Linked DNA regions of Homo sapiens: region 2 is linked to region 1. Evidence: fine-mapped expression QTL. A gene starts in region 1. The other region holds a variant in brackets. All regions are shown on one strand. Distances are from middle to middle. Region 1 holds the start of FOCAD (focadhesin). Region 2 has its middle 29 kb from the start of FOCAD.

The links. PIP is the estimated chance that this variant, and not a neighbour inherited with it, causes the effect.
Region 2: its variant is fine-mapped to the expression of FOCAD in whole blood (TOPMed, PIP 0.98).

Annotation. Positions count from the first base shown.
Region 1 is chr9:20,671,983-20,688,386 of GRCh38, forward strand. It overlaps FOCAD (focadhesin), which reads left to right and starts at 12,277. Exons shown (of 44, transcript NM_001375567.1): 1 at 12,277-12,311. It overlaps FOCAD-AS1 (FOCAD antisense RNA 1), which reads right to left and starts at 12,768. Exons shown (of 2, transcript NR_121601.1): 1 at 12,586-12,768; 2 at 11,320-11,559. RefSeq lists a silencer at 11,880-12,579 and an enhancer at 11,979-12,719.
Region 2 is chr9:20,646,942-20,663,345 of GRCh38, forward strand. It overlaps a transcript of FOCAD not described here. Among named protein-coding and RNA genes, the nearest start is that of FOCAD, 29 kb to the right of the region's middle. RefSeq lists an enhancer at 11,745-11,804. The variant TA/T (reference allele first, on the strand shown) is at 7,719.

The DNA of each region.
Region 1 (16,404 bases):
TTTTTTTTTTTTTTCCTCCCTGGAGAGCCTGTTTACCAGCACACCACTGACTGTAGCTTATAAAGACAACATAACTCCATAGTGTGTACATGGGATAGGGAACCATACTCTACTTTTGTGTGAAGGCAACAAATAAGGAAAAATGAATCAGTAAAACTCCTGCAAACTTTATAGAAGACTGTTCCAAAGGTCCTGCTGGCATATTGCAGTTTTTAAAATTCAACTACAAGTGCATTGCAATGTCATTCAGAAGGTTGAATTATAATTGGCATACTCTGTAGAAGAAGTGAGAAGTATGGTATAATTTTTATAAAGTTTTCCATTGAAAATTAATTTTTCAAAGCTATGGGAGCTGGTTTGACTATTGAGCATCTTTATTGATAAATATCAAGCCCTATGGCCTTTCTGCAACACATATTTAAGTTAAACAAATGAAATCAATAAGTTATAACTTAAAAATAAATTATTATTATTATTATTATTTTTGAGATGGAGTCTCACTCTGTCGCCCAGGCTGGAGTGCAGTGGCGCAATCTAGGCTCACTGCAAGCTCTGCCTCCCGGGCTCACGCCATTCTCCTGCCTCAGACTCCAGAGTAGCTGGGACAACAGGTGCCCGCCACCACGCCCAGCTAATTTTTGTATTTTTAGTAGAGACAGGGTCTCGCCACATTGGCCGGGCTGGTCTTGAAATCCTGACCTTGGGTGATCCACCCACCTTGGCCTCTCAAAGTGTTAGGATTACAGGCGTGAGCCACTGCGCCCGGCCAAAAATAAATTATTTTTAAAAATAACCAAAGAACCACAGGAAAAACTTATGTTACTTAAAATATTATTGTTTAGCTGGTTAAACAATCTAGGTCACCAACAGGACTCACCAAACTTCAGTTCCATGGATTTAAATCTATTTACAAGTTGCTTTTATTTAAATAAACTAATAGTTTCTAATACATAACTTATTGAAGTAAACTGATAATTAGGCATCAATTTGTATTCATTTTGGAAGCCAATGGACATTTTTAGCAGTACCAGCAGTAAAGATACTCAGATTTTATTCCCATTGCTTGGAGTATGCAGTGGCAATGAATGTCTGAAAACCACTCCAGAATGGTAGGGGGATAAATTGTATTTTGGGGAAGATTTTGGCCAGTATAGACAGAAATGGAAGAGGAGGCCTAGTTACTCTTGTTTGTTTTTACCCTTGGTTTTTTCTATTTTTTGACTATTACAAATAATGCTGCTATGAACATTTTAATACAAGCTTTTATGTGGGTTTATGTTTTAATTTCTCTAGGATATATACATAGGATTGGAATTGCTAGGTCATACGGAACTCTATGCTTAACACTTTGAGGAACTGTTGAACTGTTTTTCCATAACAGTGCACCATTTTTACATTTCCATCGACAATGTGTAAGGGTTCTAATTTCTCTGCATCGGCATCATTTATTGTCTTTTTTATTATAACTATCCTGGTAGTGGTATCTAACTGTGGCTTTGATTTGCATTCTCCTGGGGGTTATGATATTGAGCATCTTTTCATTTATTTACTAGCTACTTGTATATCTACTTTGAAGAAATATCTATACATTTTTATTTAATTATACTTAATTAATTATTATTATTTTTTTGAGACAGGGTCTCACTCTGTCACCTAGGCTGGAGTGCAGTGGCGTGATGGCGTGATCTCGGCTCATTGCAACCTCTGCCTCCCAGGCTCAAGCAGTCCTCCCACCTCAGCCTCCCAGGTAGCTGGGACTACACGTGCGTGCCACACGTGGTGTCTCACCATGTTGCCGAGGCTGGTCTTGAACCCCTGAGCTCAAGCGATCTGCCCACCTGGGCCTCTCCAAGTGCTTGGATTACAGGCGTGAGCCACCATGCCCGACTCCTAATTAATAAAATTCTTTAATTAGATTGTTTTTTAATTATCAAGTTGTAAAAGTTTTTCTACATTCCTCTTTACTCTTAATTAGTTGAAAATTTGTCAATTGTTCTTTAAGGTAAAAAGGCTAAATCAAGACCTTATGCTACCAGTTTGGATAAGAAGCGAGGCACTGGGTCTATCTGTAGTGGTATGTTGCAGTCAGTTTGTCACAAGAGCCAATTGTTAAATTTCAGGAACTTTGCAAACTACTTGTTAAACACAGTCCTTATTAAAAAGCAAATTATATCAACTTACAATTAAATATCTTATATTAGTATTAGAAATAAATATATTAGATGTTCTAAGCTTATTACTTCTGAATTATTTTTCTACATTTTATTATTATTTATGCTATTGAGGTTATTTATGCTATTGTCTCTATGGTGGAAATATTATACAATTATGTGTAAGTGTACACCTCTTCCCAACTCCATATGGAAATTGACCATGTGGGAGTACTGTATTTATACCATGGAAGTTGGCAAACACTACACATCAGCTTCTCCCCTATCTCTTTCCACCAAGAGCTGCTAATTAAACATCTGTCAGCGCACCACTGGACAATTAGGCCTGGATATTATAAAGATGTTCCAAAGGCCTAATTCTTGACAGAGAATGTAAGCAGAAGAGAATTTTTTAAGACCCCTAGCAACCCTTGCTGAGAGCACATCTTTGAAGTCCAGGCTGTGGTGCCACTTTGGAACAACTCTCATGAAGTTGCATCAAAAGATACTGGTCAGCTTTGCCTGCTAAGTTGGAGAAAGTAGGCCATGTGTTCTTTGAATGTCTGGAGGACGATGATGATTTTATTTGACTTTGCTCTGTATAATCAGTGTTTAGCATGGCGTTGAGCTGATACTATTTACTCAGTAATATTTGTTGAATAAATGATAGCTGTGCTTTTCTTCTGCCCCATGGTTATAAGGACTGAAATTTAAGAAGCCTGATTGAATAGATTCCTTCAAAATTTCCCCCCAATACCTACTTAATAAGTTCCTGGGATAAGAGGTTGTCTCAGAATCCAGGGTGAGATGGGGTAGAGTTGGGGCAGAACTATACCTATGGAAGCAGCAAGAGAACAAATTACTTCTGTGGTACATATTCTGCAAAAATGCAAGAGCCACAGTCAAGGGCAATTGACTTCTTCCTTGTAAGACCCTCTTTTTCTGGTTAAAAAAGTTTTTCTTCTATAAATCTAGTTCTCTAAGTCTCATAGGCCAGCCCTGAACCACATGGCCATGACTTGCTGTAAGGAAGTCTGGGAAAGTATCTGGCAAAGGGGAAGAAGAGAGCCATGGTTGGCTTAGGTTAGGGGTAGGCAAACTATAGTCTGTGGGTCAAAACTGGATGATCACCTAATTTTAGAATGTTTTCAAGCTAAGAATAGTTTTTACATAAAAATATATACCAGAGCATAGCCATCATGTCAAAACAAGAAAAGAAGAGAAAAGTGAACTTTTTGTGTCATGCTTTTAAGGCACAGTGGATTGTGGATTATTTTGTTATCAAATTGGATGACAAAGTATGTGTTTATTGTGCAGTGATACTATACCTGTACTAAAAGATAATATACATCAATATTCCCAGATTCATCACAATATTCCCAACTCACAGGGAGACAATGGTCAGAAAATGTGAAAATTTACAATGGAAAACGTCATCACAGCAGAATTTCTTCACAAAAATAACAAAAGAGTTGAAACCAAAGTAATTTTCTGAGTGGCTTCTTTGTTGGCCAAGCAAAGAAAGCTGTTTACTGATGATGAGTTAATTAAATCATGTTTGATCACAGCAGCTGAAAAAATTTTTTCCCAAGAAAATAAACTTGTTTCAGACGATTAACCTTTCAGTGAGATCTGTTGTTTGAAGAGTTGAAGACACTGGGAGCAACATCAATAGTCATGTACAAAACAAGGTAGATGATTTTGAGTGGTTTTCCTTGGCTCTTGATGAGTTGACAGGTATTACCAATAGTGCTCAGTTGCTTATTCAAGGAGTCAACGCTGAGTTTAAAGTCACTGAAGAATTAGCCTCTATGAATCGTCTGCGTAGAACAACTATGGGCAAATATATTTTCAAAGATGTTGGGAAAACATTAATAAAACCTGAAGTAGAATCTGTTAAGATGCCTTATAACTTATGGTGATAAAAATGTGTATGGAGAAGAAAAAGCTTAGTTGGACAAATTAATAAAGCTTGTGAAAATGTGAGAGACTTAAAGCCCATTGTTACTTACTATGCTGTTCATCAGCAGGTAATTTGCAGAAAGTGTTTGAATCTATTGTGTGTTTCTGACCCAGAAGTTCCAATGGTGAACTTCATTTACTCTGGTGGACTTAATGATCAATTCTGCAAACTTTTGTCAAAAATAGAAGCTGAATATCCCGATTTGCCCTATCACACAGCAGTTTTATGGCTTAGCAGCGGTAAAGTTTTGTTGCAATTTTTAAAACTCAGGCCTGAGACTTCTGGAATGAGAAGAACCTCCCTCAATTACTGTTATTGAACATGAGTGGCTTTGAAAATTAGCTTGTGTGGCAGACTTCATCATGTTTCTCAATATAAAATTACAAGGCAAACAGAGCATATGTCCAAAACTCACATTATGGTAAAGTCATTTTAACAAAAACTAATGCTGTTTCAATCACAAGTAATGTCAACCTGCTTAATATAGTTCCTGTGCTGTCAAAGTTTTAAAAAGAAGCAAGAGCTCCATTCCCACAAACATTTGCAGGAGATATATTTTCCAAAATCAAACTAAAGTTCCAATAGCATTTTTGGATTTCAATGCAAGTGGAAAGGAAATTTTCAAACATCAAAATCCATTTATTAAAGAAGACACAGATAAATGGAAAGACATCCTCTGTTCATGGATTGGAAGAATACCATTACAATGTTCATACCACACAACATGATCTACAGATTCAATACAATCCCTAAAAAATTTTGATAATACTATTTAAGAAATAGAAAAAAACAACATAAAATTTATAACAAACCACAAAAGGCCCTGAATAGCCAAAGCAATCTTGAACAAGAAGAACAAAGCTGGAGGTATCATACTTCTTGATTTCAAAGTACATGACAATGCTACACTAATCAAAACAGTATGGTACTGGCATAAAAATATACAGATAGGCCAATGGAACAGAGCAGAGAGCCCACGAATAAATCTATGTATCTATGGTCAACTGATCTTAAACAATAACACACAAGGATCGACTCTTTATTAGATGGTGTTGGGAAAACTGGATATTCACATGTAGGAGAATGAAATTGGACCCTTACCTCACCCCATGTGATAAAGTCAACTAAAACAGATTAAATATTCAAACATAAGATCTAAAACTGTAAAATTACTAGAAGCAAAGATAGGAAGAAAGCTTCTTGACCTTGTTCTGAGCAATGATTTTTTGAATATGACCCCAAAAGCACAGGCAACGAAAGCAAAAATAGACAGGTGGGATTGCATCAAACCAAAAAGCTTTTGCACAGCAAAGGAAACAACAGAATTAAGAGACAACTTACAGAATGAGAGAAATATTTGCCAACTATTTATGTGATAAAGGGTTAATATAGAAAATACAAAGAATTCAGCTTAATAGCAAAAAAACCAAATAACCTTATTAAAAAATGGACTAAGGACCTGATAGACATTTCTCCAAAGAAGACATACAAATGGCCAATAGATATAGGAAAAAATGCTCAACATCAGTAATCATCATACAAATTTAAAACTACAATAAGATATAACCTCAAACCTGTTAGAAAAGGTAACAAGTGTTAAGGATGTGGAGAAAAGGGAACACTTACATGCTGTTGGTGGAAATGTAAATTGGCAGAGCCATGATAGAAAACCGTGTGGAGGTTTCTCAAAATACTAAAAAATAGAACTATATCTGATACTGCAATCCCACTTTTGAGTATACCTCCAAAGGAAATGAACCTGGCATCCCAAAGAGATATCTGCACTTTTGTTCACTGCAGCATTATTCACAGTAGTCAAGATATGGAAACAACCTGTTTGTCAAAAGATGATTGGATAAAGAAAATGTATGTATGTGTGTGTGTATATGAAGATATATTGAAGTTTTTATATATCCTTTGCTTTATTGAATCCTCTCAGCACCTCCAATAATTAAAAACATATCAGGAAGAACAAAAAGAGACTTGAGGCAAATTTACTCTCTGGTCCATTTCAGAAAGAAATTGCTGGCTTAGATCAAACATATTCTATCCCTTGGTGCTGGGAACATTACTGAGTCACATAAAAATTTGGATTATTTTTAGCATGGGGATTACATTGAAATAATGTATGTCAATATTAGTAAGGATCTGATATTGTCTTGTTATTAAGAAAAGTGGTTGTAGTTATTAGAGATACATGGCTACATCATTCTTATTGCCCAAGCTGACCTTGAGCAAACTACCAAGCATGTGAATGAGGCCATCCTAGACCAGCCAAGCTTTAAGCTGACTGCAGACATGTAAAGAGATCCAGGAGGGACCAGCAAAACCAGCCTAAATATGAATTGCCTAGGAAACCACAGGATCCTGAGAATGAATAATTGTTTGTGATTGTAAGCCACTAAGTTCTGGGGTGGTGTGTTACACAGCAATCTCTATTATAGGTGACCAAGGTAAGTGTGTCAGATATTCTCTTTTTGCCCCTTCACAGTGCTGCAGGAGGCCGACCTATAACTGCAGCACAGGCTTCCCTTGCTTCAGGAGATCAAGAGAGAGGAGAATGAGGGAAGTGAAGATAGTAATTCCCTGAACCCCCTCCCTGTAGCATCACTGTGGACTGGCTGTGTTACGTGACCAAATGCCCCAAACACAGCTTCTTTGTGTTTTGTAACTACACTCTCTCCTTTCTGCTTTCAGCTTAGGCGTGATTTGGGGGCCCCAATGTTACTGCGTCTCCCTTGTGATCTTTTTAATCCCTGCCCATACCTCTGTTTATAGTCTTTTATTAAACTCTTCAATGTTTCCTAGTTTGATTGTACCATCTGTTTCTTGCTGGGACCCTGACTGATAGAGTAGGCCTTATCCAGAAGGTAACATCTCAGCAAAGACTTGAATGATCTGATGGAATGAGTCACAAAGATATCTGGGGAGAAATGCCAAGATCTTGCAGCAGCCAGGAGGCCGGGTGAGTGAGCTGGGCAGGAGTGTAGAAGACAAGGTCAAAGGGGCAACAGACAGTCTGTGTATGTGTGTGTGTGTGTGTGTGTGTGTGTGTGTGTGTGTGTGTGTGTGTGTGTTGGGGATGGAGGTGTGTGGTGCAGGGGAGGGAGATCATGTATGGCCCTGTTGGCTTTTGTAAGAACTTTCGCTTTTACTTAGAAAGAAATGGGGAGCCATTGGAGACTCGTATATCTAATTAAATCTAATAGATTGCTTTCTGTGATGTGCTGACACTGGAGCTCTGTGATTTAGTACTGAATTTCTCCTCCCAGTCTTCGTGCCTGATGATGAATGGGTGGGCGTGTTGAGCCAGCCCAGCATGCTTGGGCCTGAGTTCAAGGCTTTGTGTCTCTCTCCTGATGCTGTGGGTGACATGACCTTCCTTACAGTACAGGATTCAGACTACAGTGTCTTTTTTTTGTTAGCATATTCTTTTCAGCTCTGTTAATGACTTGGGAGTGGGCACATTTTTCTTACTCTCTTTTTTTTTGTTGTTGTTAAAGTCAGTAGGCCCTTCTACACTGACTTCAAAATGTGTGCTTATCTAAAGGGTCTTATACAATAGAGAACTGCTTAACTACTTCAGTGGAAATAATACAAGGAGTTGAACAGAAATACTATCTGCCTGCCTACCTCTTAAAGACGGTAGTTTGTCTTAAATATTTAAAAGGCAGAGTTTTGCATGTACAATGTCTAGAAAATACAGATTTGAAAGGTGTTTTAATCCTTCAAGTGAAATTTGCGTCTGAGCTGGGCCTTCTGGAATTAAGTCTAGCGCACCCTCCACAGGTTACATGAATAAAGGTGATTCTCTTGTAACCCCTATGAAGGACCACCCTCTCTCTGCTGTTTCTCAGAAATATTCCTCAGGCTGAAAGTCAGTGAACCAGCTGTAGAGAGCTACAAACATCTGCATCAGATGTAGGTTCGCCCAACTAAGTTAAACTGATCTTTCCTAAGTTATAGCTCAATCAAAATTTAACTATAAATTGTAGCTACATTCCTTCAGGCTCCATTCTTTGCTTTCAGCTCAGAAGGAAAGTAAGCTATTTAGTTAACGTGATTAATTAGGCAGGCAGAATCTTTTTCCTCCTGGCTAAGAATATAGGTGGACTATTAGAACCTGTTCTAATGTTTTTTGTCCGGCCTTCACCTTAATTTCTTTTACAATTTGTTGTTATTGTCCGGGTGCGATGGCTCATGCCTGTAATCCCAGCACTTTGGGAGGCTGAGGTGAGCCCACCACGAGGTCAAGAGATAGAGACCATCCTGGCCCACATGGTGTAACCCCGTCTCTACCAAAAATACAAAAATTAGCTGGGCATGGTGGCGCACGCCTGTAGTCCCAGCTACTTGGGAGGCTGAGGCAGGAGAATTGCTTGAACCCAGGAGGTGGAGGTTGCAAGCTGAGATTGCGTCATTGCACTCCAGCCTGGCAACAGAGCAAGACTCTGTCTCAAAAAAAAATTTAAATTTTAAAAATTTATATCCCAGTGCATAAAGCAAGCTATTCAATAGGTATGCAGTAGAAAGAGGATAGGACTAGGAGTCAGGGAACCAGGGTTTTAGTCCTTCTAAAACATATTAGCAGCTAGCCATGGTGGCTTACACCTATAATCCCAGCATTTTGGGAGGCCGAGGCGGGAGGATAACTTGAGGCCAGGAGTTCAAGACCAGCCTGGACAGCATAGTGAGACTTCATTTCTATATATACATTTATTTATTAGAATGTAGTAGTAGAATATATGTGTATGTTAGCCGAACACTGTGGTGTGTGCCTGCAGACCCAGCTACTTGGAAAGCTGAGGTGGGAGGATTGCTTGAGCTCAGGAGGTGAGGCTGCAGTGAGCTATGATCGTGTCACTGTACCCCAGCTTGTGTGACAAAGTAAGATCCTGCCTCAAACCAAAACAAAGCCAAAAACAAAAAACAGCCCTGCCCAACCACAGCCCCCCACAAAAAGCAATTAGTCATATGACATTGAAGAATTGAAGATGAACCTGTATCCTTTTAGAATTTTAGTTCCCTTCTGTGTAATTGGCTTGATTAGATTAAATCAGTGAAGCGTAAAAAAATTTTGAGTTCCAACATAAGACTTTAAGCTTACTAAAATAAAATTCCCAACAAGTATAACCTATTATCATTTCATATGAGAAAACTTCTATTTTCTTTTTTTAATAGAGATGGGGCGGGGGCCCTCACTGTTGCCCTGGATGGTCTTGAACTCCTGGCCTCAAGTTATCCTCCCACTTGGCCTCCCAAAGTGCTGGGATTATAGGTGTGAGCCATCATGCCCGGCCTGAGAGGGTACTTTTAACATTAAAACAAAACAAAAGAACAAAGCATAATCTCAGGAAAAGGACAGTCCTTTAAATTGAATAAATTTATTTTTATGAAAACTTAATACATTGTCCATATTTTTTAACTTCAGAATTTGTCAGAGAAAACTTTGTCATGAACTGGCAACTTCTGAGATCCTTTCTAGTTCTAAAAGCCTATCTCTCTAGTCTTGTCAAAATAAATCTGGTGGCTGCTGACTTGGTCTCCAGAATGAGCTGGCTCCATAAGGCTCTAGAATACGTCTTTCATCTTGGTATCTCCTGTGCCTACCACAGTGCCTGGTATAGCATTAGATTAAATAAATTAAAAGGTGAAATGATCCCTGCTGAATTGCAGTTCCTGTATGGAAGGAGTATACCCCAGAAGGAGGGGGTGAGCCCATGGACTTCCAGCTTAACCCTAGATCTGCAGTAAAAGCAGTCAAATCGGTTCTAGGCTCCAAGTTTAATGGTCAAGTTTCTCAATCCTGCCCAAAATCTGAATCTAGGATAGGTGTCTGCTGTGGCCTACATGTTTGTGTCCCCCAAAGTTAATGTGTTGAAGCCTAAACTCCAATGCAACAGGATTAAGAGGTGGGGCCATTGGGAGGTGATTAGGTTATGAGGACTCCTGTCGTGCCCTTATAAAAGACGCTTCAGGTAATCTATTTCCCCTTCTATCCTGTGATGATACACAGAAGGCACCATCCATGAGGAATGGAACCTCACCATATTCCAAATCTGCTGGCACCTTGCTTGGACTTCCCGGCTTGCAGAACTGTGAACAATAAATTTTTATTGTTTATAAATTACCCAGTCTAAGATACTTTGTTATAGCAGCCTGAACATAATAAGACGGTGTCAAAAGTAGACTCAATATCATTCTTTAAATGGGCATTTCCCTGTGTGTTCCTAAAACCAGGCTTTCTACAACAGAGGCAGTACGTTTACTCATTGAGCACCAGGGTGCTTGGATTCAAGTTTTGGCCTGGCCATTAGGTAGGTGCATGACCTTGGTCAAGATGCTTCACTTGCTGTACTTCAGGTTCCTTATTTATAAAATGTGGGTAATAACTGTAACTGCCTCATAAAGTTGTTCTGTGGATTAAATAAATTTATATACTTAGAACAGCGCTGTTTACAGAGTTATGTGTTTAATTATAATTTTGACTAATGAGCCTCAAGAAATATAGGAATAGAAGAAAAAATATTAAAATAGTCCTAAAAGAAATACTGGTGCATTTGGAAGACTGAAAGAGAGTATCATCAAAGTCCATAAAAAGGGAATTATAAGCCTTATAAAACTCCTTTGAAGCAAAGGATAACAGAGGTTGAATAACTTTAAGTAGGTTCAATATTGATTGATTGAATGATTGATTGTGACAGTCTCACTCCATCAGAGGCTGGAGTGCAGTGGCGCCACCTCGGCTCACTGCAACCTCCGCCTCCCGGGTTCAAGCGATTCTCCTGCCTCAGCCTCCTGAGTAGAGTAGCCGTGACTGCAGGCGCGCAACCCCACGCCGGGCTAATTTTTGTATGTTTTTTTTAGTAGAGATGGGGTTTCACCACGTTGCCTAGGCTGGTCTTGAACTCCGCCCTCCTCGGCCTCCCAAAGTGCTGGGATTACAGGTGTGAGCCCCCCCACCTGGCCCCAAGATTAATTTAGATAAATTCTTAGAGGGTGAATGCATAGTTGGTTATTGGGAAAACTGTTAACGGTCTGTGATACATAATTACTTTTCTGAGGTGATGGGGAACCAAATTCTTCCTACAAATGAGAAACAGAACTTCTTGTCTACACATTAAAATGACTTTGGAAACTTAGAAAAATATCAATGTCAAGATCTGGCAGCAGACCTTTTTCAACCAAGTGATGAGGCCCAGGCACTTGTTTTTTTATTTTTATTTTTTCCTAAGGGTGCCCCAGGGTTTAGAAACAACTAAGTCAGATATTTTTAGAGTAATTTGTCTTAACTCTTTCATCTTGCGTAAAATTTCCATTCTGTCATCCACAACCGGAATTCCACTCCGTCATACCAGTCTCTCCTCGTTTTTTTCTGCTGGCTCTTTTCAGCGTGTTTCATCGTGGCTGCTGTCTGTCTGTTACAGCCTTCTCACGTGGGAGCCCCTGCCCCGCCCCACGAGAAAATACATGTTTATCATTCAGTAAGTATTGCGCAAAATCGTAACAGAATAATTACTCGCGCCAATTCCCCCCAGATTAGATCAGCAGAAACACTTGGGCTAGAACTACCTCAGGACTATCTAACAAGTGGATATACCACAGTGGCGTGGAGAGCTGCAGTGTTATGTGTTGGCCAAATGAAGTAAAGACACCAAGTAGCTATTAGGCGAAGAACGAAGCGTCTTCGCGGCAAGTCGGCTGTCTGCTTTAAATTTTCTGAATCCTTAATGTTATCAGTATTATTTATTTCCCCCGAGAAACAAAATCTCCAAATACCAAGAAGCTGTTCTGTATTGCCAAAAGCTGCATAGGGGCAGGCTGCCAACAGGACTACCCGGGCACGCTGCAGTGGCATCTCTAGGCAGTTTCCTTTAATCTGATTTTCCTTGGGCTAACTCCTCACTGCGGTGCTGCTCCACAGCCAGCCCCCGCGCGCAGCCCTCCCCGCACCAGCTCGGCTGCAGAGCGCGGGTCCGCCGCCCACGCCGCCTTTCAACCGCAGTGCGCGGCCCGGGCCTTAGACGCGCGTGCGCGCGAGCCGGGGAGGGCGGGCCCCAGCCGGAGGAGGCGGAACAGGGCCTCGCGATATGCAGCCCATTGGCTCTCTCCTGCAGTCCCCGCCCCCGGGCGTTCGAGGCGGCGGGGCGGGCCACGTCAGGCAGCCGGCGCTGGGCTGAGCTTGTGGCAGAAGGGAGGTAAGCCGTGCGGGGCGGCGGGCTGCCACCGCTGCACCCCTGCTCGGGAGCCGCCGGGTCGCGCCGCCTGCGGCCCGGTCGGCTTGCATGGAGGGCGGCTGAGGCCCTGCGGGGCTGGGGCTGAGCTGGGAGACGGGGCAGTGGAGCATGTGGCGGCAGGGCCGCGTCGCGGCGAGGGGCAGCCGGGAGGGGGCTTTTTGCCCTCGTCCGGTCCTGCTGGGGCTCTCAGCTTCTGGAGGACTAGGCCTTCTGAGGTTACGGAGCTCCGAGATACCTGGGCAGGGCTGGCTGTGGTGACTGCGGTGGGACTTAGTGGGATCTCGACTCGGAAGCCGGTCGGCGCGATCCTTGCATACTTAGCTGCAGCAGGTTGCAGTCGTCCCACTCTCCTTCGACCGGTTCCCTAGTTGGGGGCAGAGCAGGAGATTCTGGCCGCGTCCTGCCTGGCCTGGGGTGACTGTCTCCTTCTCATTCCCGGTGACTCACTCAGATCATGTCCACTTATAATGCAAAGGCTTATGGGTGAGCAGGGCCTGTTTTCAGTCTCCTAGTTCTCTGGCTCCGTCCGCACTTGCGGCAATTACTTGAAGAAAGAGTATGTTAGATGTATGTTTTGAAATTTTCGCAGCAGCTAACGCGTGGAGACGTGCAGTTATGTTGCATTTACCCTTCATGAGTTTTAGTTTCAGCTGTGGCGTCCTGATATCTCAGTGTGGTTCCTGAATTTGGAGCTTTTGAAATGAATGAAATCCTGCCAATTTCATGCAGTCATTCATTCATACATTCCAAACTTTTTTGATGGATGCCTTAATGGTCAGCCTCATACCAGGTATTAAAATCGGCATTTCCTGCGTTTTATTCCAGTTTATATGTTAGTTTTATTGTCTAGATTTGAGTTGGAAATTTTTTTTTTTTTTGTTATTTTCAGGTTCTAGTATCCCTGAAACCATCGTGGCTCTGAGGGTGTAATCCTGATAACTGTATCAGTAATGACTCCAGGTTTCAGTGGCCTATCTGTAAGAAGAGGAATGGGATTAGTATAATTTTGAGATTTTCCAGGAGAGGAGGGTAGATGGCATGTTTCCTGAACTGTGTTAACAGGAAGTAACTATTTTAAAAACACAGGATGCATTTTATGATTATGTTTTACTGTGTCAACGAACATTGTATCTGTCCACATTCACTTTTTGACTACCAAGCAAGTGCATGTTTACAATTTTGATTCACATCCAATTCCTGCGTAGAAAGCACTGTGACTCATCTGAATTTTGAAATGAAGTAATCATGAGCTTTTTAATGTTACATACAAAGGTATGATATTGAAACAATTGCATAAAAATGCAATTTTCAAAGCATTTTCACTTGCTTTTATAGATTAGTGGAAGCTAAAACCTCTGCCTTGATTATTTGCTTACTTAATCAATGTTAGGTAGTTACCATCTCTTGGCTAATGTTTATCAATATTATATCTATTTTAACATTTGTTTCATTAACCCCAAATTTACTGGATTTTAACTGATTGTTGTCTCCAGTTGACGCCTGATAACCAAAAGGTTATCAGGAGGAGCTGGAGGAGGCGGAACACAGCCTCGCGCCCTGTAATAAATAGTTTGAAATCAAAATTTTCATGGACGTATAACCAGAGTTTTTCATTTGTTGATTGATTGATGGTGCTTACCGGTAAATCGTTTGGCCTTTTTCCCCGTTTAAAATGATTTATGAAACAGTCTGAGACATAATATTCTTAGCTTCATGATACTTTTGGGATATTGTCCACAAGTGATTAGTTGAATTAAATTGTTAATATCACTATTAGGAGTTTGGAAAATTTAAGAAAATATAACTTCTTAAAATTTTGCATTTGCTATTTTTTTGTTTGTTTGGAGACAGGGTCACTCTGTCGCCCAGGCTGGAGTGCAGTGCTGCGATCTCGGCTCACTGCAACCTCCGCCTCCCAGGTTCAAGTGATTCTTCTGCCTCAGCCTCCTAAGTAGCTGGGATTACAGGCGCATGCCACCACACCCAGCTAATTTTTGTATTTTTAGTAGAGACGGAGTTTCACCATGTTGGCCAGGCTGGTCTCGAAATCCTGACCTCAAGTGATCCCTCCGCGTTGGTGTTACATCTTTCAGTTCTAGAAATGGACCTGATCAAGATTGCAAGGTTAATGGGGAAAATTCAAGAGCTGAGGACATTAACCTTCTAGCGGGAAAAAACCACAATGAGAAATAATAACTATATTTGGAGGAAGTGTAAGGAAATAATAGTTTAAGGATTATTAGTCTATAACAAATCTTGATCTTAATCAGTATTTCTTGATGTATAACAAAGAACTTGGTTTAAGCACAAAAAGAAAATTAGGGTGATAATTTAAATTTTGATCAAGTGGGTAGTAAGTATTTCTTTAGGAGATGAGAAATCTATAGATCTAGAGATGCATGGTATAATAAAGTATGGTATACTTATATGAGTATAAGTCTGTGATTCACAATTAGTAATAGATTGATGGAGGTTTTGTTACTATTTCCACATGATAAGAAACAAGATTTGCTAAGCTGATAGGACAAGGGATATTTGTGAATTTCCTCCATGTAAATGATTTGAAACAACAAAGTTTTAAGTGATGTGGAAGAGCCCATCTATTTTCAAACAATGGATTGAAATGTAGTTTTTGTAACCCTCTAAGTACTTCTGGCCTCATAGTTTTTTTTTTTTTTCCCCCTACTCAGGTCATATTGAAAGTAATAAAATTGTGTTTATGATTTTAAAAGTTTATATTGGCTTTCATTTAATTAGTCTGAGTTACTTTAGTTTTATATATTTTGAAGATGTTCCAAAACCCTTGACTTTAAATACTGTATAGCTTTCCATTGTTCATGAAAGAAAACATTTCTTTAGGCCAAAGGAAATTGAGAATCCAACTTGCATAGATAGTCAGTTTATTACTATTATTTAAAGATTTATCTTTTTACTTGCCCGGGGACCAATGAAGCATCCACTGAAGCTCCTAAACTGGAGAAGGTATCTTCTAATCTCCTTTTGGTCAGATGAGTTCTTGCTAATTTGGCTGATACATATGTTGAACAAATGTAATACAGTAATTGTGGGTGTTGTAACTGTAGTTTTATGAAGTTTTTTTGGTTGCCAGGGTGTATCTTTCCCTTCTCTCTTGACAAACCTTTCTATTTGGCCTACCTGCTTTCATAATTTATTCTTAAGTTCTACTCTATTTCCCAATCATTGCACATGTTGGTTTATGTAACCAAACCTGATTTTAGTATATGCTATTAGGACATACACGTGGAGAAGAATGGAGGAAACTTTTTATTAAATGTTTTTAATTGTTGAAACACTTAAGTAAATGTGATTTTTAAAGACTCATAGTTATTAAAGGTATTGTATTCATTATTTTTTATTTATTCCTTCATTCAGCAAAGACAGCAACTACTTTGGTGCTAGGTCCTTAACTTATCTTTAAGGAACTTACAGTATTGCATGGACTTCATAAACAACACCAAAATACAATGGGATAAACATTATAATTAGTCGTTCACATAGTATAGTGGGGGATAGAGAAAACTGTGTGCAAGGTTTGAGGAGATTCAGAGAAGGCTTTATGGAGGAATTTTCATCTGAATTGAAGTTTGAAAGTGAGTAGGAATTAGTTGGTGAGGTTAGAGGATAAGGCATTCTGGGCACAAGAAAGCAGTGAGGACAAATAGATAGGTTAGAAACGGGACATAGACCCTTAATGTGTTAAGATAGAGAATAGATCAACTTTAAAAAGTAAACAAGGGTAAATAATGAAAGTTCTCTTCCACACCGTGTTAGCCATTTTGAGCTTTAATCTGGAGGCTATGTTGATCCATGAGTAATAGATTTTAAGTGGAAGAAAGTTAACATCAGTTTCATGAGGCAATGTGAGGAATGAATTGTAGTGGGGTAAGGCAGACATTTGCATTACATGTGACAGAACTCCGAAAATGCAGTGCTGCTGGAGAGAAGAGGATGAATTCCAGATATATTAAGGTGATTGAGTTAGTGGCCAGATGGATGTAGGGGATGAAGGAGTGATGGAGTCAAGGATACCTCC
Region 2 (16,404 bases), 25 kb before region 1:
GAAGAGAAAGGCATTCCGGGCAGACAATAGCCACGGCATCCACTGACATTGTTGCTGTCAAATTTGCCTGTGATCACCTTTTTGCTAATTACAATGAATACTTTTCAACTCTTGGAATTATTTTAGTCTCTGAAGACTTTGATGCTGTTGACAACTTCTTGAAATTCCCTTCTCCTTTTGTTTTAGTAATGAATTTTCTTGTGTTTTTTCCTCTCTTTAACTCCTGCTGTTCATTTTTATTCCCTTTTTTAGAACCTTTTTTCTTTTACTCACCCTTGTTATTGGTTTTATCCAGGCTTCCATCTTTGATTTATTTATCTTCTCCTTCTAGAGTACATTATTCTGGATTATCTCATCTAATCCTATGGCTTCAATTATAACCTGCCCATGGATGATTCTCAAATCTCTTCCTCCAGGCCAGCTCTCACTTTGCGTGTTTAGGCTCAGCCTCTAGTAATAAGGAACTCACTGATTTAGCTACAAGGAAAAATGGGGGGTTGAACTATCTCTTGGCCACAGGAGACACTGAACATATTGTTAATACTCTAGAAACTGTGTCCTATAAAATAGTTTATTTTTAAATCTCTGCTATTCTTGAACACTTTGTTGTGCTTTCAAAGGAAGAATGTTTTCTCATTATTTGTACTTCATTTCTAATGATCTGATAGAAGCCAGAACAAGGCATAATAATTAGAAAAAAATGCTGGAATGGGTATCTAACTCAGGATTACGGTGGGGATCCAGTGAGATAATTGATACATGTAAAAAGTATTTGATAAGTCATAAACAGCCATATATTACCAATTTGGACCAAACAAGGTACCCTCTCTCTCTAAGAGATCCTGAGTGATTTCATTAGTCATTTAAATTTAATTTGATGCACAATGAATAGTCATAGTATATAAAATACATCTATTTCAACCCCAAAGCCAGCATCATGTTAATGGGAAACATCTGGAGAAGTCCCATTAAAATCAGGAGCTAGGTGAAAATATCTGTCACCTCTATTTGACACTATTTTGGAGACAGTAGCCATCACAAGAAAGGAGACAGAAATGAGAAGTATAAAAAGTGGAAAGGAAGAGGGCAAAATTATAATTATTTGTAAATATTACTATTGCATTTCTGAAAAACTTGAGATAACTGAAAAATTACTACAGATGATAAGACAATTCAGTAAGTTGGCTAAGTATAAAATTAGCATACGGAAATGAATAGTCAATTCATTAACGTGTATTAACTGTTAGTTTAGAAGATATAATGGACAAAAAGATTCCATTTACAAAAGCAATGAAAATGTAGAAAATCTATTTGAAAAAAAAACAAAAACATTAAGCTGCAACTAAAGTCTCAAAAGAACTTTGAACAAATGGAAAGACATAGCATATTCTTGAACAGGAAGACATTATCACACACAGATTGATCCAATAAAAAGACAAGATGTTTTTATTTCAGCCAATCAAATTCTAAAGCTTATATTTAAAAATAACAAGCAATAGTATCTAGGAAAATGTAGGAAAAGCCTAGAGTGTGAAGGTCAACTAGCTTTTTTATATCTTAAAAAGAATCAGTGGAATAAATGAGAATATTCAGAAACAGAATTTAGTAAATTATAAAATCAGCCTTTTGAATCAGTGGCAAAAAAATGATTTATATAAAAATACTATTAGGACTACCAATAGACATCTAGAAAATATAAGAAAAATAAATTTGGATCTGTATCTCCTAACTTACCTCAAAACAAATTCAAGTTGGCTCAAATATTTACATGTAAATAAATGAAAACATAAGAGAGCTAGAAGAAAGCTCTAAAGACTTCCTTTTAAAAAAATTGGGGGATGGGAAAGCTATTTCTAAATATGTCATAACATTCAGAAGCCATAACAGAAATGATTTAAAAATTTGATTGCATAAAAAATAAAAATAAAGTTCTGCAAGATAAACAAAAAAGTCAAAAGACAAATGACAAACTTGGAAAAATATTCGCTAGTTATAACATAGGCAGGTGCTAGTCTTTCTAATACAGAGAGAGCATTTGAAAATCAGTAAGAAAATGACCAAGCTGGGCATGGTGGCTCACACTTGTAATCCCAGCACTTTGGGAGGCCGAGGCGGGTGGATCACCTGATATTAGGAGTTCGAGACCAACCTGGCCAACATGGTGAAACCCCATCTCTACTAAAAATACAAAAAATTAGCCAGGTGTGGTGGCAGACGCCTGTAATCCCAGCTACTCGGGAGGCTGAGACAGGAGAATTGCTTGAACCTGGGAGGCATAAGTTGCAGTCAGCCAAGGTTATGCCATTGCACTCCAGACTGGGCAACAAGAGTGAAACTCTGTCAAAAAAAGAAAGAAAGAGAGAGAGAGAGAGACAGAAGGAAAGAAAGAAAGAAAGAAAGAAAGAAAGAAAGAAAGAAAGAAAGAAAGAAAGAAAGAAAGAAAAAGAGAAAGAAAGAAAGGACCTTTAGATATATAAAATGATGCTCAGTCTTATTCACAAAAACAGAAATGCAAATTCCAATGGCTGGAATATCATTTTAAAGTTATTGTATTAGCAAAGATATAAAGGTTTGATTAGACAGTGTGTTCTCATACATTCCTAGTTGAGTGTAAGTTGGCAATTTGCCATTATCTCACAGAATTAACAATGCAACTCAACAGCTTTCCTCCTGGGAATTTATCCGAGACTTTATTCACTCATGTATGAAATAGATTACTCATTATAGCATTGTTTATAATACCAAAAGATTTCACCCATAGAGTGTATACATAATAATGTATCCCTACATTGGGATACAGTAGCTATGGGGATCATCTTTATGTGATACAGGATGATCTCCCTGATCTAATGTTATTCAGAAAAAGCAAGGTGCGGTAAGTATAGTATACTATCTTTTGTTTAAACACAGGATGTAAAATAATGTAAATTGTGTTTTATGTATAAATTATCTTCAGAAAGATACATAAAAACTCATATTAGGTGCCTCTAGAAAAGGAAACAGTATAACTGGATTATAGCCATAGAGAAGAGCTTTCTTACTTTGTACCCCTTTTACACTTTCTGTTTCATGTGAATGTATATAATTCTAAAGTGTAAATATAATTAAATTTTAAAACATTACCCCATTTTCTCATTTATACAGCAGTTATTTGCTTATTATAGAAATGATAAAATAACTCTAAGGCTGCAACCTAAATAATGATTTTGTCTGAAGCAAAATATGAGCTTGGTGCTACCTCATAAATGGCAGCACAGTACAAAAGTCCTGGAGGGCAGAAAGTGGGAGGACTGGGAGGTAGAACAGAAGTCACACTTAAGGCATTAGTCTCCCATTTGGGAACTCAAACACATAACGTGGATTTTCCAATACCAGACTTAGTTATCTTCAAAAGTTGTTAAACTAATGTCCCGATGTAACCAATATCTCTTTGAGATATAAGCATGAAACAGTTCTATGGCTTCCAAAAACTACCACCACTGTGCTCAGTTGAAATGCTCTTTGTCATTGACTGGCTTTCCTCATCAATGTCTTATCCCATAATGATTAGTTACTCTCAAATATTTATTTATTTATTTATTTATTTATTTATTTATTTATTTATTTATTTGAGACAGGCTGTCACTCTGTCACCCAGGTTGGAGTGCAGTGGCACAACTGTAGCTCACTGCAGCCTCAATCTCCCAGGCTCAAGTGATCCGCCTGCCTAAGCCCCCATTGACCATCCCGCAGCTCCCCACCTCAACCTGAGTAGCTGAGAGTATAGACACGTGCCACCACACCCAGCTGATTTTTGTATTTTTTGTAGAGATGGAGCTTTGCCATGTTGCCCAGGCTGGTCTTGAACTCCTGGCCTCAAACTATCCTCACGTCTAGGCCACCCAAAATATTGGAATTACAGGTGGGAGCCACCGTGCCTGGCCTACTCTCAATTATTAAAGTCATCCCCTTTAGGCTGTAAAGTGCTGTTTGCTTTAGTTTATCTTACAATATTTACAATTCTTTTTGTACCACATGACTCAACATGTACAAAGTGCAAAAAGGCTCTATAAATTAGCCAGGTGTTTTGGCACATGCCTGTAATCCCAGCTACCCAGGAGGCTGAGGCAAGAGAATCACTTGAACCTGGGAGGTGGAGTTTGCAGTGAGCCTGGATTGTGCCACTGTACTCCAGCCTGGGCAGTAGAGCGAGACTCCATCTCAAAAAAATAAACAAAAAAAAGCCTCTATGGTGAAGAGACTTCTTCCCATCCTTTACTCACAGATCTTTCCTTTACTCTTGGTTATGAAGGTTATGCAGTGCACAACTCTAGAAGGCTCGATACACTTTGCATTTATAACAGTATTTCTCAACATTTGATGCAATTAAAAAATAATTGAGAGTCCTCTTTAAAGGTAGATTATGATTCAGTAAGTCTGGGATAGAAGCTGAGATTCTGCATTTCCAAAAAACTCTCAGGTAATGCTGATGCTGCTGGTCTGGAGACCACACCTTTGAGTAGCAAGAGCCTATGTAATTGATGCCTCTGGAAGGTTGTAATTCCATCATGTGTGGCCTTACATGGAAGCCCTACGTTGTTTGCCTCCCCCAAGGTTTGCAAGTTTTATTTTATTTTATTTTATTTTATTTATTTTATTTATAATGGAGATGAGGTTTCTTTCACTATGTTGTCCAGGGTGGTCTCAAACTCCTGGGCTTAAACAATCCTCCTACCTCAGCTTCCTGAGTAACTGGGACTACAGGCATGAGCCACCATACCCAGCTCCCAAATTTTCAATATTCTTCCAAACATGTTCTACGTGTATGTAAGCATATACATACATAAATATATATTTAATTATATACACATATGATAGCATATTACATACATTGTACTACATTTTGTTCTCCACCCATTACCCTTCCCCAACTTAATATGACTTGGAGCCTGTTCCATACTGGTAAGTGTAGAGCTGCCTTGTCTTTTTAGTGATAAAATATTATTACATTGCACAGTGTAACTGTCCTTTAGGAAATGAGTTTTCAAATGGCAGGAAAGCAGGCGACCCCTCTGACACGCTTGGTCTCAGCTCTGCCTCCCTCTCCCTCTGACACTTGTCTTCTTGTTCCAGCAGCATCTGGCCTGACACATCTATCCCACCTCTCCCCCATTGAAGAGATAAAAACGGGAAGACATGGTTACACCACAGTTCTGTACTTCCCTGAACAGATGACCAAGATTAGTCAAACCTTGTATGTAAGTGTCTGGTGCTACAGCCGGCAGTTTACTGACTTAATATATTGCATCTGTTTTCAGCTATGGGGTCCAAGAATATATAAAAGATACATCTAGGCCCTGTTCACCACCATTTTACATATACTAGTTATGATCCATTTGGCATACCTCTCTCCATTTTTTTTTTAAGATAGGATCTTGCTCTGTTTCCCAAGCTGGAGTGCAGTAGCATGATTCCAGCTCACTGCAACCTTGAACTCCTGGGCTCAAGTGATCCTCCCATCTCAGCCTGGAGTAGATAGGACTATACCCAGATAATTTTTTTTAATTATTATTTTTTGTAGATGTGAAGATCTCACTGTGTTGCCCAGGCTCATCGTGTAATCCCGGCTTCAAGCTATCCTCCCACCTTGACTTTCCAAACTTTTGGGATTACAGGCATGAATCATTGCACATGGCCATGTTATATTTTATATTCACCATTATTATATTATAATTATGTTATAATTATAATATTTTATATATATAATATATATTTATATAAAATATATAATATTATATATATAATTATTTTTATAATTATATATAAAATATAATTATTTTTATAATTATATATAAAATATAATTATTTTTATAATTATATATAAAATATAATTATATTACAATTCACCATTTTATATTCAGTTATTATTACTATTGGTGGGGTGAAAGAAGAACTATATATTTCTTATGTTCTTTCAAGAACCTTTACTAATCTATTTGTTAGTAATAGCATTGATAAATTATTACAGAGAGATGGATAAATCATGTGCCAATGGGCTAAAATATGGATAGGGCCAGATTCTAGAATGGCTCTATTAGTAGTAAAATTCTGGTATTCAGAAAATCCTTTAACTTTGCAGTGCCCTAGTATAGAACCATTAGCTGAGAAACAAAAGTATACAGAGAAAAGAGTTAAGATTACTAAGGTACAGTATTATTTCTCATTCATTATTACCTTTTAATATATTAACTCTGGAAGTTTTTTCAATCTGATGGTTTATCATTTTGGCTGATTAGAAGCATACCTTGGACATATTACAGGTTCAGTTCCAGATCACTGCAATAAATATCAGAATAAAACAAGTTACAAGAATTTTTTTTCCCAGTGCATGTAAAAGTTATATTTACATTATACTGGAGTCTATTGAGTTTGTAACAGTATTATGTCTAAAAAAAAGTACTTACCTTAATTAAAAACACTTTATTGCTATTAATAAAACACAATATTTATTAATATATTACTAATAAAAATGCTAATAATCATCTGAGTCTTCATTGAGTTGTAATCTTTTTGCTGGAGGAGGGTCTTGCCTCAACGTTGATGGCTGCTGACTGATCCGGGTGGTGGTTGCTGAAGGTTGGGGTGGCTGCAGAAATATCTGAAAACAAGACAACAATGAAGTTTGCTGCATCAATTAACTCTTTCTTTTGCAAAAGATTTCTCTGTAGCATGTGATGCTGTTTGATAGCATTTTACCCACAGCAGAACTTCTTTAGAAATTGGGGCCAATCCTCTCAAACCCTGCTTTCTTTGCTCATCCATAAGAAGCAACTCCTCATCTATTCCAGTTCTATCATGAGATTACAGCAGTTCAGTCATCTTTAGGCTCCACTTTCTTTTTTTTTTTTTTTTTTTTGAGACATAATCTCACTCTGTCGCCCAGGCTGGAGTGCAGTGGCAAGATCTCGGCTCACTGTAACCTCCGCCTCCTGGGTTCAAGCGATTCTCCTGCCTCAGCCTGCTGAGTAGCTGGAACTACAGGCGTGTGCCATCACGCCCGGATAATTTTTTGTATTTTTAGTAGAGACGGGGTTTCACCGTGTTAGCCAGGATGGTCTAGATCTCCTGACCTCGTGATCCGCCCACCTCGGCCTCCCGAAGTGCTGGGATTACAGGTGTGAGCCACCCGACCCTAGGCTCCACTTCTAATTATAGTTATCTTGCTATTTCTGCCACATCTGCAGTGATTTCCTCTACTGAAATCTTGAACCCCTCAAAGTCACCCATGAAGGTTGGAATCAACTTTTTCTAAATTGTTCATGTTGATATTTTGACCTCTTCCCATGAGTCACAAATGTTCTTAATGGCATATATAATGGTTAACCCCTTCCAGAAGGTTTTCAATTTACTTTGCCGAGATCCACCAGACAAATTACTATCTATGGCAGCTGTAGCTTTACAATAACGATAGTAATAATAAAAGAGTTGAAAACTGAAATTACTTCTTGATCCGTGGGCTGCGGAATAGATGTCGTGTTAGCAGGCATAATAGTAACATTCATCTCCTTGTACATCTCCATCACAGCTCTTGTGTAACCAGGTACATTGTCAGTGAGGATGAAAGGAATCTTTTTTTTTTTTTTTTTCCTGAGCAGTAAGTCTTTACACGGGGCTTAAAATATTCGGTAAACCATGCTATAAACAGAAGTGCTGTCATTCAGGCTTTGTGATTTCACTTA[TA/T]AAACAGTGGCAGAATGGATTTAGCATCATTTTTAAGGGCCCTAAAATTTTCAGAATAGTAAGTATGCATTGGTTTCAAATGAAAGCCATCAGCCCCTAACAAGAGGGTCAACCTGTCTTTTGAAGCTTTGAAGCAAGGCACTGACTTCTCCTCTTTAGCTATAAAATTTCTAGATGGCATATTCTTTCAATGGAAAGGTGTTTCATCTACACTGAAAATATGTTGTTTAGTGTTCCTCCTTCATCAGTGATCTCAGCTAGATCTGGATAATTTGCTGCAACTTTTACATCAGCACTTGCAGCTTCACTTTGCACTTTTATGTTTTGAAGATGACTTCCTTCTTTAAACTTCATGAACCAATCTGCTAGCTTCTAAATTTTCTTCTGCACCTTCCTCATGTGTCTCAGCCTTCATAGAATTGAAGAGAGTTAGAGCCTTGCTCTGGATTAGGTTTTGGCTTTAGAGAATGCTGTGGCTGGTTTGATTTTATATCCTGACCGCCAAAACTTTCTCCGTATCAGGAACGAGGCTGTTTTGCTTTCTTAGCATTCATGTGTTCACTGGAGTAGCTCTTTTTAATTTTCCTCAATAACTTTCCCTTTGCATTCACAATTTGGCTAACTGATGCAAGAGGCCTAGCTTTCAGCCTACCATGGCTTTTGAGATGCTTAATCGTTTTTAGCTTTTGATTGCTAGTGAGGGATGAGTGACTCTTCTTTTCACTTGAACGTTTAGAAGTCTTAGGGTTATTGGTCTAATTTCAATATTGTTATTTCTCAGGGAATAAGGAGGCCTGAACAAAGGGAGAGAGATGGGGGAATGTCTGATCTGTGGAAGCGTGGAACAATCAGGACACACACAACATTTCTCAATTAAATTCAAGTCTTCTAGGGTGTGGTTTGTGGTGCACCAATGCAATTGCAAGAGTAACATCAAAGATCACTAATCACAGATAGCCATAAGAGATAAGACATTTTTTATTGTGTCTATTAAATTCTTCTCTCTTTTTTTCTTTATTAGTCTTGCTAGCGGTCTATCAATTTTGTTGATCCTTTCAAAAAACCAGCTCCTGGAGTCATGACTTTTTTGAAGGGTTTTTTGTGTCTCTATTTCCTTCAGTTCTGCTCTGATTTTAGTTATTTCTTGCCTTCTGCTAGATTTTGAATGTGTTTGCTCTTGCCTTTCTAGTTCTTTTAATTGTGATGTTAGGGTGTCAATTTTAGATCTTTCCTGCTTTCTCTTGTGGGCATTTAGTGCTATAAATTTCCCTCTACACACTGCTTTGAATGTGTCCCAGAGATTCTGGTATGTTGTGTCTTTGTTCTCGTTGTTTTCAAAGAACATCTTTATTTCTGCCTTCATTTTGTTATGTACCCAGTAGTCATTCAGGAGCAGGTTGTTCAGTTTCCATGTAGTTGAGCGGTTTTGAGTGAGATTCTTAATCCTGAGTTCTAGTTTGATTGCACTGTGGTCTGAGAGATAGTTTGTTATAATTTCTGTTCTTTTACATTTGCTGAGGAGAGCTTTACTTCCAAGTATGTGGTCAATTTTGGAATAGGTGTGGTGTGGTGCTGAAAAAAATGTATATTCTGTTGATTTGGGGTGGAGAGTTCTGTAGATGTCTATTAGGTCTGCTTGGTGCAAAGCTGAGTTCAATTCCTGGGTATCCTTGTTGACTTTCTGTCTCGTTGATCTGTCTAATGTTGACAGTGGGGTGTTAAAGTCTCCCATTATTATTGTGTGGGAGTCTAAGTCTCTTTGTAGGTCACTCAGGACTTGCTTTATGCATCTTGGTGCTCCTGTATTGGGTGTATATATATTTAGGATAGTTAGCTCTTCTTGTTGAATTGATCCCTTTACCATTATGTAATGGCCTTCTTTGTCTCTTTTGATCTTTGTTGGTTTAAAGTCTGTTTTATCAGAGACTAGTATTGCAACCCCTGCCTTTTTTTGTTTTCCATTTGCTTGGTAGAGCTTCCTCCATCCTTTTATTTTGAGCCTATGTGTGTCTCTGCACGTGAGATGGGTTTCCTGAATACAGCACACTGATGGGTCTTGACTGTTTATCCAATTTGCCAGTCTGTGTCTTTTAATTGGAGCATTTAGTCCATTTACATTTAAAGTTAATAGCGTTATGTGTGAATTTGATCCTGTCATTATGATGTTAGGTGGTTATTCTGCTCGTTAGTTGATGCAGTTTCTTCCTAGTCTTGATGGTCTTTATATTTTGGCATGATTTTGCAGCGGCTGGTACCGGTTGTTCCTTTCCATGTTTAGCGCTTCCTTCAGGAGCTCTTTTAGGGCAGGCCTGGTGGTGACAAAATCTCTCAGCATTTGCTTGTCTGTAAAGTATTTTGTTTCTCCTTCGCTTATGAAGCTTAGTTTGGCTGGATATGAAATTCTGGGTTGAAAATTCTTTCCTTTAAGAATGTTGAATATTGGCCCCCACTCTCTTCTGGCTTGTAGGGTTTCTGCCGAGAGATCCGCTGTTAGTCTGATGGGCCTCCCTTTGAGGGTAACCTGACCTTTCTCTCTGGCTGCCCTTAACATTTTTTCCTTCATTTCAACTTTGGTGAATCTGACAATTATGTGTCTTGGAGTTGCTCTTCTCGAGGAGTATCTTTGTGGCGTTCTCTGTATTTCCTGAATCTGAACGTTGGCCTGCCTTGCTAGATTGGGGAAGTTCTCCTGGATAATATCCTGCAGAGTGTTTTCCAACTTGGTTCCATTCTCCCCATCACTTTCAGGTACACCAATCAGACGTAGATTTGGTCTTTTCACATAGTCCCATATTTCTTGGAGGCTTTGCTCATTTCTTTTTATTCTTTTTTCTCTAAACTTCCCTTCTCGCTTCATTTCATTCATTTCATCTTCCATTGCTGATACCCTTTCTTCCAGTTGATGGCATCGGCTCCTGAGGCTTCTGCATTCTTCACGTAGTTCTCGAGCCTTGGTTTTCAGCTCCATCAGCTCCTTTAAGCACTTCTCTGTATTGGTTATTCTAGTTATACATTCTTCTAAATTTTTTTCAAAGTTTTCAACTTCTTTGCCTTTGGTTTGAATGTCCTCCCGTAGCTCAGAGTAATTTGATCGTCTGAAGCCTTCTTCTCTCAGCTCATCAAAGTCATTCTCCATCCAGGTTTGTTCCGTTGCTGGTGAGGAACTGCGTTCCTTTGGAGGAGGAGAGGCGCTCTGCTTTTTAGAGTTTCCCGTTTTTCTGTTCTGTTTTTTCCCCATCTTTGTGGTTTTATCTACTTTTGGTCTTTGATGATGGTGATGTACAGATGGGTTTTTGGTGTGGATGTCCTTTCTGTTTGTTAGTTTTCCTTCTAACAGACAGGACCCTCAGCTGCAGGTCTGTTGGAATACCCTGCCATGTGAGGTGTCAGTGTGCCCCTGCTGGGGGGTGCCTCCCAGTTAGGCTGCTCAGGGGTCAGGGGTCAGGGACCCACTTGAGGAGGCAGTCTGCCCGTTCTCAGATCTCCAGCTGCGTGGTGGGAGAACCACTGCTCTCTTCAAAGCTGTCAGACAGGGACACTTAAGTCTGCAGAGGTTACTGCTGTCTTTTTGTTTGTCTGTGCCCTGCCCCCAGAGGTGGAGCTTACAGAGGCAGGCAGGCCTCCTTGAGCTGTGGTGGGCTCCGCCCAGTTCGAGCTTCCCGGCTGCTTTGTTTACCTAATCAAGCCTGGGCAATGGCGGGCGCCCCTCCCGCAGCCTCGCTGCCGCCTTGCAGGTTGATCTCAGACTGCTGTGCTAGCAATCAGTGAGACTCCGTGGGCGTAGGACTCTCCAAGCCAGGTGCGGAATATAATCTCGTGGTGCGCCGTTTTTTAAGCCCGTCGGAAAAGCGCAGTATTCGGGTGGGAGTGACCCGATTTTCTAGGTGCCGTCTGTCACCCCTTTCTTTGACTCGGAAAGGGAACTCCCTGACCCCTTGCGCTTCCCAGGTGAGGCAATGCCTCGCCCTGCTTCGGCTCGCGCACGGTGCATGCACCCACTGACCTGCGCCCACTGTCTGGCACTCCCTAGTGAGATGAACTCGGTATCTCAGATGGAAATGCAGAAATCACCGTCTTCTCCATCGCTCACGCTGGGAGCTGTAGACCGGAGCTGTTCCTATTCGGCCATCTTTGCTCCTCCCTGCAACTAACTCCATTCTTAATTGGTAGGTGATTCTTATGGGTTGAATTGTTTTCCCCCAAATTCCTATGCTGAAGTTCCAACCCCTAGTACCTCAGAATGTGACTGTATTTGGAAATAGGGCCTTTAAAGAGGTGATTAAGTGACAGGGTGTGGTGGCTCACGCCTAGCACTTTGGGAGGCTGAGGTGGGTGATTGCCTGAGCTCAGGAGTTCTAGACCAGCCTAGCCAGCATGGCAAAACCCCATTTCTACTAAAAATTCAAAAAATTAGCTGGCTGTGGTGGTGTGCGCCTGTAGTCCCAGCTACTTGGCAGGCTGAGGAAGGATAATCACTTAAACCTGGGGGGCGGAGGTTTCAGTGAGCCAAGATGGCACCACTGCCCTCCAGCCTAGGGAACAGAGTGAGACTCTGCTCCCCTCCCCCCGCCCCACACAAAAAAATTTAAAAAGAAAGTTAGCCTGGCATGGTGGTGTGTGCCTGTAGTTCCAGCTAATTCGGAGGCTGAGGCATGAGAATCGCCTGAACATGGGAGGAGGAGGTTGCAGTGAGTCAAGATGGCGCCACTGCACTCCAGCCTGAGTGACAGAGTGACTCCATCTAAAAAAAAAGAGAAAGAAAGGAGAAAGAAAGAAAGAAAGACAGACAGACAGAAAGAAAAAGAGGTGATTAAGATATAAGAAGAGGAAGTTTGGCCAAAGAGACACCCAGGATGTATGCACATAGAGGAAAGATCATGGGAGGATATGGTGAGAAAGTGGTCATCTGCATGTCAAGGAGCTAGGCCTCGGGAGAAAGCAGGCCTGCTAACACTTTGATGTTGGATTTCCCTGCATCCAGAGCTGGAAGAAAATAAATTTCTGTTGTCTAAGTCACCCAACCTGTGATACTTTGTTATGGCAGCTGTAGCAAACTAATGTAGTAATAGTCATTGAAAGATTTTATGCAGGGAAGCAGTCATTTTGATGGCATTGTGAAAGCATTGGAAAGCAGTGAGATGCAGGTGGGCAGATCAGTTAGGATATTGCATCAGTCTAGGCAAGAGATGGGAAGGGCTTGACTAAGGCAGTGACCATCGGAGTGGTGCAATGAGATATGAGAGATAGCTCAGAGGTAAAAATTAATGGAGAGAGAGTGGATAAGTTGGCAACATTTTCCAGGTTTCTTGCTCAAGTGGCTGGGTGAATAATATGCCATCAAGGCCTGAAGTAAGAAATATAGGAAGATAATTCAGTTTTGTTTTCAAGATAATGAGTTTGGTTTTTTGAGATGTTTTCTTGGAGTACCTGTGGGACATCCTTATGGACAGGTTCAGTGGTAGCTAAATATCCAGATGTGGAGACGAGGAGATAAGAGAGGCTACAGACAATAACTTGTGAGCCATCAGCAATAATAACAGCAATAATAGTAGTTATGGTTAACACTTAACCTAGGGCTTATCAGGCGCCAAGCAATATTCTGAACCCTTTGGATGTCACATATCCTTACAATGACCTATGGTGTAGAAACTACTGTTATTCCCATTTTAAAGATGAGGAAATTGAGGCAGAGAAAAAATACCCAAAGTTACTCTCAGCCAGGAAGTGTAGAGTCAGGCTATGAGCCCATACAGTCTGGTTTTAGGGCATGTATCTTGACAAGGTGATTTGCCTCTTCATGTAGTTGGTAGTTAAAATTATGGAAAAATATTCAGATCCCTTAGAAAGAAGATTTCTATAGGGTGAGAAGAAAAGAAGTCAGTATAAAATCTGAGGACATTTCAATACCAATATGTAGAGATCAGCAGAAAAAGAAGATCCGAAGAGACAGCAACAGTTTGGTTAGAATGATGGAAGGAAGACCAAGATGAGAAGTGGCCAACAGTATCAATGCCACAGAGATACCAAGTAACAGACTCAGAAAAGTGTTCACTGGATGTGAAAAGTAGGAGAAAGCTGGTAGCCCCAGCAAGGGTCATTTTATTTGGGTTTGAGGGAGAAGGATCAGAAGTCAGATCATAGTGACTGGAGAAGTTAGAAAAAGAGCATACAGAAATAAAAGAAGAATTATGGCAGAGAAGGATATGAGAGGCAGACAGTCAAAGAGAAAGAGAGAGAGAGAGAGCAATTTGGGCAAAAATTATGGGGACATTCCATGACAAGACTGTGATTAAAATGGAGTGGTTGAACATGTTCATAGACCACGGGAAAGGAGTCAGCAGAAGAGGGGAGGTTTAAGACAGAGAGGAATAATTTGAGAAGGGATGTTTTAGAGAAATTAGAGAAGTAGAATTAAGAGCACAGCTGGAGAGCTAAGGAGGCTGTGGAGATGTTTGGCAATGGCAACTGAAAATGATGGCATTCACTCTGATGTTCTTGGTCTTCTCTGAGAAGTACGGAAGCAAAGTTATCTGAAAAATGTGGTAGAGGAGAATGGGTTGGGAGACAACCAAAGACTAGTAAAAGGACTGAGAAGTAGCATGAAGGGCTCAATAGACAGGAGAAACATTGAAATTGTAGTGTCAGCACCACTTAAAGATGTATGATAGTCTCCAATGTGCTGAGTTCTGTAGGAGGAAGAGTAGACAACATGTATTATAAGATTGTCTCAAGACTGGGTTTTGCAGCAGGCTGTGATAGAAAAACCTGACTTGGTTGTGAGGAGTGGGGAAAGGGAGGTGTTAAAAATGAGGGAATTTAAATGGTTGGGAGGCAGTTGTTCACTTGATGGGCCAAGGAGCACAGACTAGGCAGGTAATTAAAGTCTAAGAGGGAACTGTTAAACTGAGATATTCTCAGTGTCCTTCTTTTTCTCACTATCTCTCTTCCTACTGTTTTACATTTTGTCACACTGGGAAAAAGAGGTCAATATTTAGAAAATCAGCCATTGTGTCTAATTTTCATATTGCTAAACATAGGATACATTGAGTACATATTGCTGCAAGCCCTATGGAAGTTAATTCAGTAATACCAGATTACAAAGGCATTTACACTTAGACTCAGAAATTCTACTTCTGTCACTTTATCCTACAGATATACTTAGGCAGGTACAAAATGATGTGGGCAAAAGCACCACTGTTATTAGTAAAAGCTTGGAAACCTCTGAAATGGCCATCAAAAAATGCTGCTGTAAAAGAAAGAATGAGGAAATTCTTTATATATTGACATGAAAAGATAACCAAGATTAAGTGAAAAAAAGGCAAGGTACAAAACAGTGGTAGAGTATGCACCTTTTGTCTATGAAAAATGGGGAATTATGAATATGTATGATATTTGCCTTAGTTGCACAAAGAACTACTGAAAATATCTACAAGTAGTGGATGGGACATGATTTCACAGTAAACTTTTTATATTGTTTTTATTTTTTAAATGTGGCTGTGTTGCTAAACATAAAGTGGAAATATATGTGTGTGTGTGTGCATATATGTGTGTGTGTGTGTGTATAATTACAAGCTACATTGTGATAGCCATGGAGATGCACAGTCCAGATCCCATTACAAGGAATTAATTACTGCCCAGCTGTGGAGAACGTAGTCTGCACAAAAGCCTCCAGCTGTCAGCTCCTTTAGGGTCAGCCTCGGGGGTAAAGAGCCATCTTAGCCAAAGTCATGCCCTTCCCAAGGCAGCTTACATTTGGTGACTGAGAGAAGCAAGGGAATAAAGACTGGGACATTTTAGTCTGGGACAACTCCGAAGGGCAATATTAGCCTCCTAAGCTCCCAGCCAGGGTGACTGGGGACTTTGTCCAGCCTGCATCTGGTTTCAGCTTTTTTCCTGCTCAATTCTGCTTCCTCTCCCCACTCCCCAACACGTTTGACAGATATTTATACCTTTTTATTTCTATTTTTAAATTTTTTTTTTTAGAGGTGGGGGTCTCATTATATTGCCCAGGCTGGTCTTGAACACCTGGGCTCCCTGCCTTGGTCTCCCAAAGTGCTAGGATTACAGGCGTGAGCCACGGCACCCAGCCAGATATTTATCCCTGATAAACGTCTTGCAACCCAAACTTTGGCTCAGAGCCTGCTTTTGGAAGAGTCAGGAATATATTTTGATAACATTCTAAAGATTTAGTTTTCAATGCATAGTATACTTAATAGAAAAATCAAGACATTTAAACTTAAAGGAATAATTCAAATAACATAATAGAAAATTATTTGTATCCAGTTGTCTTGAGTCTAATGTATTTCAATATAACCTTTTAAAGTTACAGTTTTAACAGTAACACTTATAATGTATCTTATTCTCAGTAAACAAACTATAAAACAAAAGGTTTTTTACTTCTGATAATATCAAGGAACAGTGGCTATGTTTGCAAATTAAATTAGGCTGGGTGTGATAGCTTCATGCCTGTAATCCCAGCTCTTTGAGAGGCTGAGGTGGGAGGATTGCTTAAAGTTAGGAGTTTGAGACCAGCCTGGGCAACATAGTGAGACTGCCTCTACAAAAAAATAAAAAACAAAAAATTAGTCAGACATGGTGGCACATGTCTGTATTCCTGAGCTCAGGAGTTTGAGGTTACAGTGAGCTGTGATCATGCACTGCACTCCAGCCTGAGTGACAGGGAAA